Linked DNA regions of Homo sapiens. The protein of the gene in region 2 interacts with the protein of the main gene of each other region in a pairwise test. Each region holds a gene or a part of one and is shown on either strand. Other genes may lie near its edges.

The links.
Region 1: the proteins of LEPROT (region 2) and MEP1B interact in a protein complementation assay, tested with the Homo sapiens proteins (one study listed by IntAct).

What each region holds. Positions count from the first base shown.
Region 1 is NC_000018.10:32,207,021-32,214,054, reverse strand, and holds part of MEP1B (meprin A subunit beta isoform 1 precursor), read right to left. Parts: intron 6,804-7,034; coding exon 6,585-6,803; intron 5,937-6,584; coding exon 5,784-5,936; intron 3,555-5,783; coding exon 3,339-3,554; intron 940-3,338; coding exon 496-939; intron 1-495. UniProt on the Homo sapiens protein: Membrane metallopeptidase that sheds many membrane-bound proteins. Exhibits a strong preference for acidic amino acids at the P1' position. Known substrates include: FGF19, VGFA, IL1B, IL18, procollagen I and III, E-cadherin, KLK7, gastrin, ADAM10, tenascin-C.
Region 2 is NC_000001.11:65,416,691-65,423,684, reverse strand, and holds the start of LEPROT (leptin receptor gene-related protein), read right to left. Parts: upstream 3,018-6,994; 5' UTR 2,961-3,017; coding exon 2,945-2,960; intron 2,358-2,944; exon of another isoform or gene 2,269-2,357; coding exon of another isoform or gene 2,226-2,268; intron 1-2,225. UniProt on the Homo sapiens protein: Negatively regulates leptin receptor (LEPR) cell surface expression, and thus decreases response to leptin. Negatively regulates growth hormone (GH) receptor cell surface expression in liver.

The sequences.
Region 1 (7,034 bases), on a different chromosome or scaffold from region 2:
TAGAAGAACCCAACATCTGAGGGCCTCTCCACCGCAGGCCTTTCCACAGCTTCCACACTTGACCTGTACTAATTCTCATAGCAAATCTGTGGAATGATTACTACAGCCCTGGCTTTACAGCTGAGGACACTGGGGCCCTAAGAGATTATTTGCTCAAGATTACATAACTAATGAGAAGCAAACTTTGGACTTGAACTCAGGCATGTCAGACTCTAAAACCAACACTTCTTGCACAGAAGTGGAAATTTGAGAAGGGCCATCAGTTCTTAGGAATACAGTCAGCATTTGTTGGAGTCCTTGCTGACATTTGTGATGAGCTCCTGTCTGACAGACTCAGTCCACAATTCTTGAAACCTTTCCCCTAAATATCTGTTCTTAAGATTTGGGGCTCAAAATTCCCTAGGTAACTAACTGTGCAATCCCTCATTCCCAAAATTATCAGTCCCTCCTAGAGCAATGATTGTTTATTAGCAATAAAGAAAATGAGTTACGAACCGGTGGTCATAAATGGGTCTGTAGTTATACTCCGCTGATTGGACATACGCTGTCGAATGTCAGGATTTTGATCCAAAAGTGTCATTGTGGCTTGTTGCCAAGGACATGGCCACTGTAATTGATCATCATTGGCTCCAGAGATCAAGTGGAAATATATCCCTGCATTAGTCACATGGGCTAGATTTAAGTAAATCTGAAAGGCATAACCTTTAGAAGAGTAAAATGGAGGGCTATACAGAGTTCCATTTGGGCTGCCAATGAACTGTGTGAAATTCCTTATATGCCAGATATGATGAGGGCACCGTGTTTCCGAAAGATTGATGTCATCAATAGACAGACCACCCAGTGATGCACCAGAGCCTTTGCGTCCTTCAAACACCACTCTAAACTTCTTGGTCACTTTCAATGTTACATGATAAAGTTGCCAGCTCCCAGTGGGTATTTCTGCAAAAGAGTCATTATTATTTCAAAGACAAAGAAGTTCAAATCATGTACATGTCAACATTAGATTTCTAGCCTTCTTAGACAAAGGGTCATCCAAAACCGATTTATTTCTACAGGTCAGAAGTATGGTTTTGCCAAAGCTCCAGCCTAGAATTATTTACTTCAAGGTGCTTCTGTGGGGTCACACTGTTCTCTGGAATAGCTGAACGTTTGTCTAGCTGTTTCTCAAATAGATCACCCTTTCCTAGAGATCGGTGAGTAAATAACAACATCTAGCTCATGAGTACTTCATGCCCTACCTATGAGTTACCTGCCATTCTCCATTAAAGGGCCAGCAAACCCAACACTTGTAACACTTCTACTCAAGATTCCTGTGATACTCAGGCAAAGCCTTCTTTAATATATTTATAGTTTGATTGGAATACTTCCCTCACATACAAAGTCTTCAATCAACTTTTTGGTAATATTAAACAAAATCCACCAAACCCTAGAAAGCCTACATCCTGCAATCTACTCTTTAGATCACTTCCCAGTAACTCAGCATTGTAAGTATTTATCTGATATTTGGTACCACCTCCTTTCTTTCCAACCTGTACTTCCTCCCCAACTATTAGCCCATACCCCTCGCTAGCAGCACATAATATGCCATTCTGTCTGATTTTCTTATATCACATACTCAAATAAGAAGCAGTATACTAAATAATCTGCAGAGGCCCCCAGATGAACAACAGCTGAGGAATTCATGTCAAACTAGTGGTTAACACAAAGTCTTAAAACAAAAATATGTTGGCACTTAATGTGAAACACAGTTACTTGAAAATAAGCTAGACATACCCAAATGACAGAAAATAAGCAAGCTTCTTAAGTGCCTTTTTGTGTTATTGTGTATCAATGACGAACCCACAGATTGCTAATAGGAAGGACCCCCCTTCCAGTCCTGGACAATTATATATATTACAGATACATTATATCAATATTTGTATTAATTTAGATATTAATACATAAAATATAATATTTATAGTAACATATATGGCTTATATATAAGGCTTTTATATATGTAATATATAATATATTATATATAATTATTCTTTATATATTTTACATTGTTACATAAATAATATATATGTATAATGTGTGTATATGCTTAGTGAGATTAAGAACCTTACTGCTTACAGGTGTTCACAAAGAAAAATATCGCCTGTATTTCAGATTGTTTCTCATTGTTGAAAACAGGAGGAAAATGGCATACTATATTGCATAATATGGATCCAATTGTGGAACAAATTGAATTACTCAATTCATTCAAGTCATGAGATGATTAGGTGGAATAGACAGTAATATATTTGCCAGCCCACAGCCCCTCCCTTTCTCAGTCACCCCCTTAACCATCTACTTGCATAGGTGGTCAACATGGCTCTCCTCTCTGACACATTATTGGTATGAAGGGTGGGTACCCATTTCCCACTCAGGAATTGCTCCAGAAGCTGTGTTTAACTTAAGACATAAGTATCCCAGTTCTTCACTGGGATTTATTTTTTAAGCTTTATATTAGAGGAAGAGTCCTTTTTCCAGACTGATAGCAAATTTGGTCAAATGTAAGCTGGGAAGTGAAACAACCGAAGTACCAGTCTTATAAAGACAGCCATTCTGAGATAAAACAAGAGGTCCCCAGCAATGTTCAGAGACAGATCTATTAATAATTCCCCCTCAAGCCAGTGTCTCCCTCATCTGTCCCACAGGCTGTAACTAACATTTAGCCAGGAGCCCATCCTATTTTGCCTAAGCTAGTTCACATTGTATTTTTATGTATTTTATTTTTATTTTATTTTATTTTATTTATTTTTTCAGAGATGGAGTCTTGCTCTGTCGCGCAGGCTGGAGTGCAGTGGCATGATCTCGGCTCAACTGCCACCCCCGCCTCCCGGGTTCAAGCAATTCTCCTGCCTCAGCTTCCCAAGTAGCTGGGACTATAGGCGTGTGCCACCACTCCCAGCTAATTTATGTATTTTTTCAGTAGAGACAAGGTTTCACTATATGTTGACCAGTCTGGTCTCAAACTCGTGACCTCAGGTGATCCGACCGCCTCGGCCTCCCAAAGTGCTGGGATTACAGGTGTGAGCCACTGCGCCCAGCCTTGTATTTTTATTATTTGCCAAGAACTGACCTCCATAGTGCCAGAGACTGATCTACAGTTTCTTAAGTGAGTGTTACATAACAGAGCACTCAGAAAGAATCTTCATTCTAGCTTCCTTTCCACAGCTTAAAACAAGAATCTAGTTCTTAGTTGAAGTATAGTGACTCAGTAGCCCCTGCCCTATTGTAAATTGTTGCATTAACTAAAGAAAAGACCTAAGATTGCCTCATTTTAAATCCAGACAATAAGGATGTTGACATTGTACCTTTTATTTCTTCCACAAGGGTTAAATTGCCATCCACATTGTCTGCAGAATACTCCCTGATATAGATGTTCAGTTGATCACTTTCACTGCCACTGTTATATAAGTAAAATTGCAGGCACTGAAATCCTCTTTTAGGGTACAGCGTTCTACTTTCCAGCACTGCTGTGGCCCCCACATTTACAGAGCTGCTATCGAAATGCATGAAGAAACCAGAACCTGTTAAAGAAAAGCAGAATTGAGAGAAAAACAGATACTGGGTATAGGAATGTGTGTTTGTTAATGGTGGTGCTAGATTCTTTACGCGAGGCATAAGTAACATCCATATATAAATCGCCAGGGAGAAATGACAGAAGCCTAAGCTACATATCTGGCACTTGCAAAAGCTAGCAGATTGACATAACAGTATAAAACTCAAACCTCTCTATTATTTATAAAACGTTTACTTACAATAGTAGTTTTCCGTGGGCACTAATCCTTGCTTATCTTCATTTGTTATGAGCTATAAAGATAAAGCAAGTTTAAGTATCAAATGCTAACTTTTTAAAAATCCACTGTAAGGCTGCAGGTCAAGCCCAAACAGCAGGGCTAAAAGGTAGATTCTACATGGGACACCTTTCAAGTGTCCAAAACCCTGGTCCAGCTCCAAGTGGAAAGAGCTACCATTGGACAAAGATGCTACAGAGGGTTGTTCCCCCGCTGAGAATATGAAAAAGGAAAATGGAAATTAAGTCAAAACGAGGGTTTGAAACTTGGGTGGGTAGAGAGTTGTAGCATCTGTGTCTCCCAAGGGTAATTCAACGTGAACTTCTAGGTCTTTCTGGAAAGGTGAACACACACTGCGGACAGAGGTGAGAGTCCAGCCAGGAAACCAGGGCCTTGGCTGACCTGCCCGCCCCCCTTTTTTTTTTAAACACTTTCTAACTTCTTTGGCTTCAAACTGTCACAAAAAAAGAAGGAAGAAAAAAAGAAAAGGAAGAAAGAAATTCAACTTTCAGAAGATATTGTTAACTACAGCAACCATCTGGGGAGATTCACATTTTAATATTTTTAAAATGATACTTGTAATGAAAAAATTGAGAATAACTGAACCTGATAATTTCAGAGGCACCTCCCACTTATCTGCTTTCATTATCTGCAATACTTAACCTTCTAAGCCATCTCTAAAGAAGGCACAGCTAGTAATTCTGGTTTGAGTGTATATATATTTTCTTTCATTTTTTTTTTTTTTTTGAGACAACGTCTTACTCTGTTGTCCAGGCTGATACGCAATGGTATGATCTCAGCTCACTACAACCTCTGCCCCCCGGGTTCAAGTGATTCTCCTGCCTCAGTCACCCAACTAGCTGGGACTACAGACATGCACCACCACACCCAGCTAATTTTTGCATTTTTAGTAGAGACAGGGTTTCACCATGTTGGCCCAGCTGGTCTCAAACTCCCAACCTCAGGTAATCCGCCCACCTTGGCCTCCCAAAGGCCGGGGATTACAGGCATGAGCCACTGCACCCGGCCCAATTTTCTTTACCTTATTTCAAGTATTCGCTTAGTTTCCACTATATGCAGGGAATTGTGTTGGGCATTTAAATATGGTTCTAGGAGCAGGCGATTTATGAAAGAGACAACATTAGGGAACCTTTCCCTTACCACAGAAATTAGTTTTCAAAAACAGAAAAAAGTGAGAGCTACCTGGTCTGGATTCTTCTTCTTTTCCCCCTCCCTCCCTATCTACTTTCCTCTGGTCTGAGTAGGACCACTATCCACTATCCAAATATGCATTTAAAAAGAAAAATAAAAGGAAAAGCACCTTTTTGCCATTAGAGGCCTCCAATTCCTGCCTAGATCATCTGAGCTATTAAGCACTGGCCCTAAGTTCTGAAGTCTAGTTTTACATATTTGATGCCAGAATAAGCAAATACGTAAAAATTTGGTCCTTGTAGCCAAATAACTACTTAAGGCAAAACAAAATGAAAATGGAAAAGGATACGCATCTGAAGAAAATTAAATAAACTCTGCTTTTTAGATATTTTTGTAACAGGAGCATATAATCACATCCAGCTACAGTTCTGAAACAATAATTCGCAGCCTAGTGCTGTCCATTGGAAAGAGTCTCTTGTATTCTGCAAACTTCTAGGAAACAATAGTACTGCCCCTGAGATAAGAGGCCTTGCAGGAGGCCCAGTCTGGTACACTCTCCTATGGGAACGCACTGGTAGAGGCATCACAGAGCCCAGCTCTGACTTGTAGAAAGAAAAATAAACTCAGGAAGGAAAAGCAAAGAAATTAACAATGTCTTTATCAGGTGCAAGGCCTACTTCTCAGTAGTAACCTAATGAATAATCATTAATAATTCTGATAGAAATTAGAGATAAAATCCCATTCTTTCATAGAGAAGTATGTGGCTGTAGCCACTGAGTATACAGTCTAGGAATATCTCACTCCTGTTACCTTGGCACTGGCCCATGTTGGAGTGATCACTCTCTGGCCCCCTGGGAACCTGTGAAACCCGTTGCCAGTCAGCATTATCTCCTGAACTTTGGATCATGCCACACACATTTTCCAGTTCAAAACTGCACGAGTCCATAAAACTCAAGGAAGAGGCTACAAAAAGCAAAAAACAATTATTGACACTCATACAACATGATAATCTAAGTAACAAAAACTGAACTTATCACAGTATTAGAAATGCCAGGTTGGTATTACAGGGAACACCTAGCTGATTCTGGATGATGGTGGCTTAAAGATCCCTCTTTATTTGCAGAACCCCTACAAAGAAGGTAATGAATTCTGTAGATCTGAATAAGCTCCCTGCCTGAAGTCTTTTTTAAAAAAAATTTTCTAATTTGTAGAAACCTGAGTCTATACTCCCCTAGTTATTCGAATCATTAAGCCACAATCCAGATTATTTGATCCCATTCATATTACAACTAGACATATCATTTTGGCTAAAAGGAAGTGTGAGTATCAATCTGACCGAGGTTTGAATTAGTAACAGCTTTAAAAACTTGCCTGAGGCATATTCCTACAGGACCCAATTTGTTTTTAGATCTCAACACCAGACGTGGTGAAAAGAAAAATGCTGCTTCCAAGTTGTAGATTGAGATCTGAGTGCTATTCTGTTTATTTCCTGAATATCAAATCTCTATAATCGCAGAAACCCCACCAATGCTTGACAAAATGGCACAGACCATCATTTTTTCCTACATAACAGCGGAAAATATAAGTCATTTCAAAGAACCTGTCACATACAGCAGTTATACAGTTGATTCAACTTTAGGAGATCAGAGTCACTGAAATCCATTCGTTGGCCGATCACATCCTCAAAGTCTGAGATTCTTGTGACAATTGTCGGCTCTGTTCCATTTTGGAATGCAGTTTTACTGTAGTGCATTACTGAAGTGTAATCATAGGGAACATTCAGGGAATCTGATATATCGTCACTATAGGTGTTAAAATTGTGCTCTCTGCCTAAAGGATAAATAAAAAATCTTTACTTGATGTTCACAAAATTCAGCTTATCTTACTCCAAATACTGCTCACTTAGAAATGGAGAATATAATAAACTCAAGCAATTTTTGCTACAACTAACAACAGTTTCATTATTCCCATCTTACAATATAATATTCAAGCTTAGAACTGTGATACCAGCAGTCACACTGAACATATCTAAGGTTCTATTGCAGCCCATAGTTAGGACAT
Region 2 (6,994 bases):
AACATCTGAAAGTATACACATGTTAAGGGACAAAGAAACACTGTCAATTTTAACATATCTTTTTACATTTCCACTCTTTAATGGAAAATGCCCATGTGTGGATGGAAAGCAAATACCACATACTATTTCATTCAGATGATCTTTTCCCAGCAGGCTTTGCTCCTCTCCTCTGTGCCTGACCATCGGCAGTACCCCCTCCTCCATGAGGCCTGTCAAAGCTAGGTACTGCAGACCTCTTCCTTCTGTTCTGATACCAGTTTCTCAACGTTCACAACCATCTTTCTGTTTGATTCTTTTTGGTCTTTTTTTTCCTCTTTTTTCAGGAATCACATCCTCTGAATCTCTTAAAGTTGGAGTTGACCAAAAATCCAACCCCATCTCTCTTTTCACTCCACGCACTCCTGCTGAAAACTTATGTTCAACCCAAAGCTCCTACTACCACAAGGGCCCGGCCGCAACTGATGCTCCAGCCCAGAGTAGGTCCTAAAGAACTAGGCCTGTACTTCCACCTCCAGTCTGGACTTCTCTGCCTTGACCGCCAACAAGAACCTCAAATTCAACATGTGTAACACGTGTAAAACCAAACCACTATCCCTACACTTTAAAGGTCCTATCTTAGAGGACTGACACCATGATTGCATTCCACCTTCCAATGAATCAGTAGGTCAAGGTGACTCAATCTCCCAGACTTCTTAAACTCTCTGCTACAGCCCTGGTGCAGGCCCTTAACCTCTTATTCCTGCCTCTGTGACTCTTCCAATCCATCCTCTACACAGCAGACAGTGATCTTTCAACTATATATATCACCGCTGCCATCCCTTTGCGGTTGCTTCCACAGCCTACAAGTTGTTCTGGCACGGAGGCTCACCATCGCCTGACTCACTCCTAACTGCCTGTCCAGCCAGCTTCAACCCTCACCACTAAGTTCTGGTCTTACTAATGTAGCTTAAGTACCTGAAGAGAAGAAGGCATGTTGTTTCATAAGCCCTGCGCCATGTCACGTGCTGTCCTCCCCACTTGGGATATACTCCACCTTCACTCCATGCCTTGCCAAGGGAAGCCACATTGATCCCTTCAGATTCAGTTCAAGCATCGCCTCTTCTGTGAAAACAGTCCTTTCTCTGGAGCAGGGGAATCAATCCCACCTGCATCAGCTTCCTAGGGCTGCCGTTACAAAGTACCACAAACTGGATGGCTGAGAACAACAGAAATTTATCTTCTGACAGTTCTGGAGGCTGGACTTCTGAAATCAAGGTGTCAGCAGCGCCACCACACTCCCTCTGAAGGCTGTAGGGAAGCACCCTTCCTTGCCTCTTCCTAACACTCAGTGGTTGCCAGCATGGTTGCCAACAATCTTTGGTGCTCCTGACTTTGTAGCTGCATCACTCCAATTTCTGTCTCCGTCTTCCCATGGTATTCTCCCTGTATGTCTCTATGTCTAAATTCCCCTCTTCTTATAAGGACACCAGTCATTGGATTAGGGCCCACCTTAAACCAGTTATCATTTTAATTTGATTATATCTGCAAAGATACTACTTCCAAATAAGATCACATTCACAGGTACCAGGGAATTAGAGCTTGAACACATCTTTTTGGAGGACAAAATCCAACCCACCATCTGTTCTCCCACCGCATCTGAGCCCAACATAAACACTGACATAGTAATATAATTATTTCCAGCTCTGTCACCCACCAATAACTTCTCATTTATCTTTGTATCCTAAGTCTCTGGCATACAGTAGTTCCTCAATAAAAGTTGAACAATCTGTAAAATGCTTCCTTCCCTTAGTCCGTTTCCATTTCAGACTTCCTTTTTTTTCACTACATCACAATTTTCTAACACATTCACACATAAACGTGATCATGATTTGGTAGTTTCTGATCATGTGTAGTACTGAGACACTACTTTTCATCTGTTTTCGGCATTGGCTTCAAATGGATATATAACACAGTCGACACTCTCCAAGTAAACCATGTTTACTAAACTGATATTAAGTATAAAAGTCAGCCAGAAATAACGATAAAATGTCTGCTGCTAACAGCTCACATACTCGGATAAATTCATAGTGAACAGAGGCGTACTCGTATATATACTATCTACATGTTTATAGCAGATGTTAACTGGGGATATCTTTGGGTGCAAATTTCAAGGATGATATAAAAGCCAATATAAAAACAAGTCATGCTACTCTATTCGACAGATTAGAAATGGAATGTTTTCCTACCAAAATACAGGAAGCCTTGCAAAAAACCTTTTCCGTCTCGCATTGCTCTGAAGCCATACAGATAAGGGACGCGGTGTTTTTACCAACTGCCCCATGCAAAAAACACATACTACACACACACTGGTTTCTTCTCTGTCCATAAACAGAGAAAACACCGAAGAAAGCAGTATTAAAATTACACGTAATCTACTCTCCACGACTGCGAGAAACACCGTCTTTCTGGGTGCTTTCCATTGACACCCGCCCGCGGTCAACTCTGCCCAGTTGGAAAAATCATTAGGAAAAAGAGGATTAAGTTTCCCAATGCTAAGAACGCTGGAGACAAAGGGTCCTTTGTGGCAAATAGGAAACTGCGGAGGGGCAGAAAACCAGAAGAAAGGCGTTAGGGTGGCGTCAAGAAGTGGAAACCTTGTTTAAAAACTCAGGAGAGGTGGAGGGCGCCGCTCTCGCCGAGGGCTCAGGCTGGGGAGGGGTCTGGTGCCGCCACTGGAGAGCAGGAAGGCCAGCGGCCTTGCAAAAAGGGCCAAGGCTCCCCCGAAACGCCGCTCCACCCACACCCCAAGGGACGAAGGGAGCGGTCGATCGCCTCCCGAACCGGAGAGGCGGGAAGGGTGGTGAGGCCGTTCCCCAACGGCGCGCGGAAGGCGCAGCCCCAGGCTTGACCGGAACGGAGGTGGCAACCCCACCACACGACAAGCGAGCCGGGGACCGCGATGTACCTTTAACGCCCGCCATGTCTCCCGAACTGGGGCCGCGGCTGCTTCCGGCTTCCTGCCACGGCCCGGGCAGCCTGCCCAAGCCAGACCGGGAGTCGCCCCGCGGATCCCGAGCCCGCCCCGGCCACGCAGAGCCCCGCCCCCGCCGGTGCAGAACTCCGACCTTAGCTCGCAAACGCGGCGCCTGCTGCTCCAGACCCCGCCCCCACCACTCACAACCCCGCCCCCGCCGGTGCAGAACCCCGCCCCCAGCTCGCAGAGGCCGCGCCTGATAGTTCAGACCCGGCCTCGCTACTCAGAGCCCCGCCCCTGACAGTACAGAGCTCCTCCCCTACCTCGCGGAGGCAGCGCCTGCGGCTCCAGACCTCGCTACCGCTACTCGAAGCCCCGCCCCAGACAATGCAGAGCTCCTCCCCTAGCTCGCGGAGGCCTCCCCTGCTGGTCCCGCCCCAGCCCTCACCGGCCCAGAATTCCGCCCCCAACTCTCAGAGGCCGTCCCTGCTGGTCCCGACCCCGCCCCCGCCACCCAGAACTCCGCTCCTGCCAGTCTAGAACTCCGCCCCCAGCTCGCAGAGTCCATCTCCAGCCCTAAGGTCCCACCTGGTCCCACAGAGCTTTCCCAGAGTAACCCCAACCCAGTGCCCTGGGCCCTCCTCCTAGATCCTGAGCCCTCCAAGTAATCCTCAAGCCCGTTCAATGTGGGTTGGGACCTTGGCTCCGCCCCGACCGCGGGCCCAGAGTCTCTCCCCGGCCTCTCAGAACGCAGTGCACGCAGCGGGGGATCCTCCCTGAGCCTTCCTGAGAACGGAGATGTAGAAAGTGGGGAGAGGCAGGAGAGGGAAGGAGGGGAAAAGTTGCAATCGATGGGAGAGGGACACCGACTCACTAACCAGTGTTATGTTCCCTGAGCTCCCAAGTGCGTGCTAGTGTGCGAGTGTGTGCCTGTCTGCCTTCACATGACTGTGGCAGAGGAGAGGCGGGGTACCAGAGGACAGGCCCCTTAGGAAACACTCCTCATTAAGAACTTGATATTTGCATAGGTTTGCTTTGCTTAATAGCAACGCTTTACTGAAACTAGCGGGGTTTTTCTTTACTCCCTGGTTTATTTATAGAGACGAAGACCATATAAGCTTTTGTGTCCGAAGCTTTCATGAACCTTAAAAAAAAAAATAAAAAAAAAAAGCTATTATTTTTGTGCCTTGGGGCCTCAAAGTTTGCAGGTAACCAAGGCCAGTTTTTAGATCTCTGAGAGCCATTGTGTACTTATCTTACAGGAATGGAGAGTTCTGTTTTGGCAAAAGCAATCTAGAAGATCATTGAAACAGTCTGGTCCAAATGCTTCAACTTACATTTAAGGAAAGAGGTGCAGAAAGGATAGGACTTGCCTGTCACACAGCTCTTTGGAGGAGGTTGGATTCTGGGCCACTTCCCCTCATTCTAGCTGAGATCCACTCTACCTGATGGTGCCGTCCCTCTTCTCTTGCTTTTTCTCCGTTTTCAAAAGGACTGAAAGACAAAGGAATCTGTGGAAACCTAGCTTCCCCTGGCTACCTGAGAAGTATAAATTCTCACCACCATCATGTTTCATGATCCTTGCTCAGTTTACTTTTTCAAAATTGCACATTGAGCATGTTACTGTTTCAAGAAATGTCTATTTGTTGATTCAGTGGAGTATTTTTCTAGCTGTCAGTTTATTTTTCTAGCTCCTCTCATTTCTCCTCATAGACGGATGGCACACTCACTGAAAACAGCATTGTAATACCTGACTCACTGCTGATGCTTGGAGATCCAATACTACAGTACAGCACTTTTTACTTTGGAGCCTTCAATCTACTCAAGAGCATTGGCAGTGTATGCCACTTTGGTTTAAGGATTATTTTGAGCTGAAGGCAATTAGGAAGAAGCAAATAGGTACACGGTACTAGAAAAGCACTCTGCCCTCCCTCTATTTGCCAAAAAGCAGGATATAAGTTTACGAAGGTGTACCTCCTTCCTGCTCTACCAGGAAAGACAAAGATTAATCACCAGAGACAATTTTAGACCCCTGTCAGCCTGGAGACAACACAAGAAAAATCTACATGATAAACCTTAGTATTTGGCCTTCATCTGCAACTAGTCTCCCATATATTTGTTTTCCGACAATTTGCTGCCCCTAGAGACTCAAGATCCTTTATCTTGTCATTTCTTTAAAAATTTATTGTTCCTTGGCTAATATGCTGTATAAACCCAAGTTCTAACCAAATCTTTGAGTTGCTTATCTCTGAGTATTCCCATGTTACCTATATGAACAACGCACGTGTTGATAAACTTGCTTTACTTTTGTTCATCTGTCTTTGGCCAGTCTAATGCACAAGGACCCAGCCGGAGAACCTAAGATAGGTAGAGAAAAAGATTCTTCCTCCCCTACAAGAGCTTGTTTCCCTATCATATTATTTCTAATACCTATTAGAGCACTCAAGGGAACCTGCGTATCAGACAAGCCCTGGAAGTCTGTGGTTTTTAGCTTTCTTCGTGTAGTGCTAAGCTACTCTCATGGGGAAGATATTCTATGGGGTTAAATTTCCCTCATTCCCCCTTCCATTTCCAACCACCCATTCTGTCTCCAGAGAGCCTAAATAGGGTTTGCGGGAGCCTTCCACATCAGCCTGACTCCAGTCCCACAGAAGATAAGTGATTTTAGAGAAAACTGACAACACATCAGAAGCAGAGTTTGGTTTGAGCACCCTAGGCTCAGGAGTAAGATATTGGAAGGTGGTATGAAAGAAAAAGTTGAGGTGTTTGCCCCAGGGTAATGTCTGGAATTTAAAAAATGCTGGGACAGTGTTTGTCTTGAACAAGTTTTCTGCCCACGCCAGCTGTCCTTTCCAGGTTACCAATCACCTTAAAGAGAAAGTTAGCTATTTTGCCATAGGCTTTAACCATCTGAAAAAAATCTGCTTTTCTTTTGCCTGATGTTGCACTGAAAAAAACTGTTCTTCTACTTACTCCTTCCACATTTTCTCAAAAATAAGAGTCATCAAAAACAGAAAGTAAAACCCTAAAAACCAAATCCTTATCCCCAACTTGCCATTGATATGTTACTTGTAAGATCTGTGACCTCTGTCATGCTGCCTAGGACTACAGTGGACTTACTGGGATGAATTTTAATATTCTCTCCTTGCATTCAATAGTCTCGCATGATAAGCTAGGTTTTATTGCCTCTATCTTACAGATAGGAAAACAAGCTCCCAGTAACCAGTGAATAGGGAAGCTGAGATCAAGTCCCAAACTGTTCAGCTCTAAAGTCAGATGGTCAGCACTTGTACTATTCCCCACAGTAGATCTTATGCACCAAGAAGCAAGAATTCTTGTAGTAATTAGAAATAACAGTAACCTCTTATGCTTCACAGGGCATCAAATCCATTCACTGTCTTAATTTTCTCCAGCATATCTATTAGCATCTTGCATACAGTATACACAAAATGTTGGCTGAATTAACAAATATTAATAAGTTTACCATACACAGTATCATCTCTCCCTATCCTCAGAAAAAAAAAAATATATAGCCTCAAGCTCCAGCTCTGGGTAAATTTCTCCATGCTTTAGCTTCCTGAGGTAAGATTTACAAAAACCTGTCTCAGAATCTTTGGGGGAATTAAGTGAGAAAAAAATATATATAAAACATATATATATATATATGGTAACACCTAGGGCAGTGCACACAAGATAAATGCCAGGATGTTATATCTACACTGGGGTAGGCTTGCAAGTCAGTGCATAAGTTAAATGCAAGAATGATGCAACACTAATTGAAATCCGTAAATGTTGGTTTTCCTTCCTAATGCTCAATCACTACTTCTTTTTACATAGCTATTCCCTTTACAGAAACTACAATGCAAACCTCTTTGCCATTTTATGTAGACAGATCTCTGTAAACCCAAGGAGATAAGGAATAAGGACCAAGGTAAAAGTAACTTTGGGTTGCCTTTTCCTACTTGTGTCACTCCCTAGAATATGAGGTTTCCATGTAATTCCAGCTCCAATACCCACCTACAGTGATATACTTTGTCTTAT